2 separate regions of the Homo sapiens genome follow, and region 1 is linked to region 2. A link means that fine-mapping ties the variant in region 2 to the expression of a gene that starts in the linked region. Tissue or cell type: whole blood. Region 2 holds a variant in brackets; the other region holds the start of a gene. All regions are shown on one strand. Distances are between the middles of the regions.

What was found. PIP is the estimated chance that this variant, and not a neighbour inherited with it, causes the effect.
Region 1: it holds the start of AKR1C8, and the variant in region 2 is fine-mapped to the expression of AKR1C8 in whole blood (TOPMed, PIP above 0.99). The same link has a PIP of 0.9 or more in blood mononuclear cells and lung.

What each region holds. Positions count from the first base shown.
Region 1 is chr10:5,183,823-5,186,511 of GRCh38, forward strand. AKR1C8 (aldo-keto reductase family 1 member C8) reads right to left here and starts at 1,328. Exons shown (of 9, transcript NM_001395972.1): 1 at 1,190-1,328. The coding sequence starts at 1,282.
Region 2 is chr10:5,262,926-5,265,614 of GRCh38, forward strand. No RefSeq gene overlaps it. Among named protein-coding and RNA genes, the nearest start is that of LINC02561, 7.0 kb to the right of the region's middle. The variant G/A (reference allele first, on the strand shown) is at 1,115.

The DNA.
Region 1 (2,689 bases), 79 kb before region 2:
AAACAAGGCCCAACATCAAAATGCCTTTGTCCTTTATGCCTAAGACATGGCAACAACTGCACTCATATGAGAACAAGAACCAACAGAGAAACACATTTGTCTTTTGTGTAACCAACAGACTTCTAGGAAAGTCTCTTTTTCTTTTGTGGGCATGTATATGGTGGGCTCCAGTGGGCTCTGGTGGGCACTTTCCTTTCCTTTTGTGGACATGTGGACCGTGAGATGAGCCTTTATGAATTATCATTCAGCATCTGACTGCTCCTGGGCCAAGGTCCCAGGCCAAGCTATCACTTCAACTCCTGATTGGTCCCAGACCAAGGTCCCAGGACAAGCTGAGTTACACTTTCTCCAAGACCAGTCAACAAATTCTTTTCTTTCCCAGTCCATCAAAACCCTAGACCTGACCTCATAGTTAACAATCCATCCAGGCCCCCTCTCTACTCGAGAAAATCTTCCTTCTTTCACTTATTAAACTTTCACTCCAACCTTACCCTTTGTGTCCACAGTCCTTAATTTTCTCAGTCATAAGACAAAAAACTTCAGATAATCCCTCAAAATGAAAGACTACTATATTTTTAATACATTGATGAGACTGTAACAGAATCGCAGTGGCTTCTTATATAGCAAAAAGTTTGGATGGTTGAAACTCTCTGGCAAATACTTCCAGCCCCAATAACCTCACAGCAAAGCTGCCACTAAGTATTCATTTTGGCTTTTGATTCCTCCTGGGTCCTTGGCCCTTCACATTTCTAACCAAGAGTAGAGTGGCTCTGACCAGAGCAAAAGATGAGAACAGTCTGAGCTTGCATTTTTAAAACGTAACAAATTTTAATGAGTACTTACCTAGGCCAGTTGTTAAGGAATTAAATAAGATAATGCATGTAAAACACCTAAAATACATGGAAAGCATTTGATATATTAGGTAACATTGATACTTTTAATAGAAATAAAGATAATATACCCACAAAATTATCAATCTCAGAATCCCCACAATCAATAACTTGCCATGCCACTTAAAGCAAAAAAGATCTCTGTGACCTTGAGAGGAGCAAGTTAGAGACAGTTAAATGAAATCCCAGATGAGCCCTTCCAAGCATCCACTGTCTACCCAAGTGCAGGGCTCTTGCCTGATGACTGCCCTGCAAGTACAGCTGACCTAAGAAACTTCAGCCTCCTGGGGTCCACTTACATGATCAGGAGCATAAGTGCCAAATCCCAGCACTGGCATGAAGGGTCCATCATTCAGCCTCACTGAATGGCTTTGCTTCAGATCCGTCATCATCCCCAGCTAACCTGTCTTTCCTCCTTTTCCTCACTGACAGCCCAGTAGGAGACAAGGCTCCTGCGTTCTTTATTTGCACCAAATGCAGGATGGGCGGGATGGAGATGACAGCTGCCAATGATTTCAAAATGAAACTGGAATCAGTCCAGTGCCTTTTCTCTGATTCTTATGTCTCTGTGGGAGTATTTTACAGAAAACTCACTCAGAAATGCTGTGAATGCCAGAGGACTTTGATTTTCTCCTCCGTGTTGTTCACACTTGATTCCTTAGTTGAAAAATGAACCACACCAATTTGTCCTTGATAAGTACACTAGACTTCCTTTACAAGAGGCAAAGTTATTATTAGGGTGGTCATTTCAAAACACTAATTCTACTACAGAACTGAAGTTAACTTTCTCACTTATATTTGATTGTTAATCCCTTTAAAACAGCTTATTAGAATTCCTTGAATAACGCTTGAGGCCTAGTGCCAGCCATGCATGTAATGAAATTTCTTAAGAACACCCACCCCTATTCCCAGTATATTTCCCTCCTGTGTCAAGCCACACTCCATTTTCTCTGACTTGTTTCCTTGAATGTTTTGCAGAAAAAACTTGTCTGAGATCATGGATACATTTCTATGCTCTTGCCTTTGTTCCAGCCATTGTCTCTTTTTAGAACAGCCTGCTTAACTCCCTCCTGGTCTCCAGCGGGTTTCTTATCTTTTACTTATCCTAAAAGCACCTCCTACAGTCTAACATCCTTTATGACTCCTTCTTTTTATTGTTGTTTTTTGTTTGTTTGTTTTGAACAAAGATAGGAGATAGCAAAGCAGCCTGGGTCTTAACAGAACAGCTTGGAATTCCAGGGCCTAAATTGCTTTTGCAAACATAAACACACACACAGCAACCATGAGAAAAATGAAAATTAAAAATGGCTTCCAATTCAGATGCCAAGAGGCTCAGCCTAAATGGCCTTCTGCATAATTCACTTTGGACACTTTCATCCTCTGTAGGTGAGGACAACAGGTCTGGACCAAGGTTAATACCTTAAATGGTTCGAAATAACTGACTTTGGGCAGGGTGCAGTGCCTCATGCCTGTAATCCCAGCACTTTGGGAGGCTGAGGTGGGCGGATCATGAGGTCAGGAGGTCGAGACCATCCTGGCTAACACGGTGAAACCCTGTCTCCACTAAAAATACAAAAAATTAGCCGGGCGTGGTGGTGGGCACCTGTAATCGCAGCTACTCAAGAGGCTGAGGCAGGAGAATGGCATGAACCCGGGAGGCGGAGCTTGCAGTGAGCCAAGATTGCACCACTGCACTCCAGCCTGGGTGACAGAGCAAGACTCCTTCTCAAAAAAATAAAATAAAATAACATAACATAACAGACTTTGAAATAATCAGCAGGGTAACCAGTTATTGCTAA
Region 2 (2,689 bases):
TGCATTAGAGTTTCAGTAAACCTGTTTTTTCTTTTCTAGGATTCTTAGTCCCTGTACTTGTGCTAACTTCAAGTTCCTTCGGTGGATTTTAGTTCATCTCAGCTGTGCTGAAGGAGAAACAAGGCCACACAGTCTTGTCACCTCTGCTCTGGGTGTGAGGACAGCATGGAGATCATCAGGTCAACGCAAGTAAGATGAGGACTTGGGCCAGGAAGCAGAGAGAATGCTGGGCCGCTGTCCTTTTCTTCATGGGATGGTGTTTAGACAACATTCTCTGGTGACAAGGACTCTCTTCTTGCCCAAACCCTAGTCAGGCTCCTCTGGGCTCCTTTTTCAGTGAGGCCCCATTTTGGGGTGTGTCCCAAGACCCCAGTTTTAGCAAGAATCCTGTTACCTCAATTCAGCCAGAATCCCCCACCCTTGATGTCTATCAATCACCCTCAGCTTCAATATCTGGCCAGGTTCTTTGTCCCTCACCATCCCCAAGGAATTTGTGGCCACCCTGAGCTGCCTTCTACAGGAATCCTGTTAGGTTGGTTGAGTCAGAATGCCCCTTACCCTGGGCACTTTGTCCTAGTGATCCTCCATCTCCTGCCCCCACCCTGCTTCTTGGCTTTCCTTTAGTTGCACACTCCTGTTTTCAACAGTCATGCCCAGAATTTTAGCCAAGAAAAATTAGAATTCGGACCAAACTGTAGAAAATAATAAAAATTTAAAAACATTAAGCAAGACTAGAACCTAACAACAGGTGTACTATAGTTTTTGAAACATAATTTTTTCTCTCTCCAATTTCCCATTTTTACTAAAGACAAATCATGGTAGGACTGATTTGCTTTATTATACTTGGCCTGATTATTTGTATACAGTACAGCAAGAATAATTATTTTTTTACATAGGCTTTTAAATTGGCTTTGATGGAACTTTGTTCCACAGAAGGAATCTCAGATAATATTTTTTTGAAGTGAAACCCAGCCATGGATTTGTACCATCAAACACCTATGCGTGGGTGAATTTCTCTCCTCTTGAGATCCCAAGATAAACTTGGGGCTCCTGGACCTGTCAGAAAGTTACATTTTTTACTTACCACAGATCAGGAACCCTGTACAGGCACTGC[G/A]TAGACAAAGTATGAGGCCAGTTTTCCCAAGGGGCTTTTATTGTCTCCATAAGTCAAGTTTGATTCCTGAAAGAAAGCACAGCGTGCCAGTCAAAGCCTTGGTAAAATAACCAGTTTCTCCAATTGTGTCCTGTTTCAAATAAAAACATATTCTTATTGCACTTATGCAAATAACTGTATTGCCATAAGTTAAGAATACTAATAAATAGTTTCCAAATTCTGGAGAAATCAGGTAGAGAGAAAGAAATAAGCTCCAAATTTTGTTCACGGGAGTATACTAAATTGTTAAAAGCTGCCAATAGCTCAAAAGAAAAGCTTCCTTGACTCTGAAAAATACAGAACAAAGGATCAGCAATGTTTTAAGCAAAAAGTCAAAAAGATTACTTCAGTCTTCTATTAGTTCAGTTCATGCAGCTAATTCCTGCTCTGCTTGATATTCATGAACATTTCAGCTCTCCATGAGTTTTCAAAGTTTTTCCTCTATTCTGATGTCACAGTCTTCAAAGTTATCAGAAACCTGCATTCAAGAGCACCTGTTAGAGTATTATAGTTCTATAAACCACCTTCTAAAGAGGAGCAAAACAAGAAACAATTGTCTGTGGATGACAAAAAGTTTTAGAGCAGCCATAGTCAAAAACACAATTGACAGGGAAATTTGTTACCTCTGTGGCACACCATAATTTAACATGACAATGATTATTACTGATAATGTATACTAAGTTATATCAGAGTTATATGAGTTTCCCATAATTTTGGAACACATGCCAATTACATATTTATACAAATACAGCCCAAAGATAACCAAACACCATTTCATGTTTGACAATACTTCCTGTATAATTTTTACACCAAGTGAGCCAAATTTCATTTTTAGATTTTAGGGAACCTAATATCTTAAAGGATTAATTAGGTCTGAAAAAGAAATAATTTATAATTTGATTTGGAAAGTTTGTCAAATATCAATGGTTTAAAACACTTGATATTACAGGTCATTGTAAAATAAGTCATTCATTTAACCAAAGTGATAACACAAGGATTCCAAAAAAAGGCAAAAACCTTTTTTCTTTGAGAGAGAAGACTTAATTTTCCAAACTATAAGCCCTAATAAAAACAGTGTGATACCAATTAAATCTGTTTTTCAAAATTTTATTAACAATTTATGAACTTTTAATCTTGACAATAGGATATAACTTTCTTAAGCCTTTTATAACCTTTATAACCTTTATTAAGGAGTCAGTTAATGCTTCACTAAAACCTTGTTAATCTGTCACAGGGGGCCATATTCTTGTCTTGCATCAGTGTGCCTTTGACATTAATGATTAATTTACAGAGAAATTGAACTTATTTTGTCTCTCAAAATTGGCCCTTTCAATCTCACACACCCACCTCTTCCACAATAGTCCTGGGGCCTTGAGGAGTTGAATAGCTTTTATTTCTGGCCCTATGTCTCAGGAATGCAATTTATTTTGATTGGCATCTTCTACTGCGCCTGAAGATGAGGCTTTAATTGTTGTCAGTGTTTAAGATGTAGCAGGACTTGGTGTCCTTTATAGATCCAGGAGTCAAAGCCCTGTA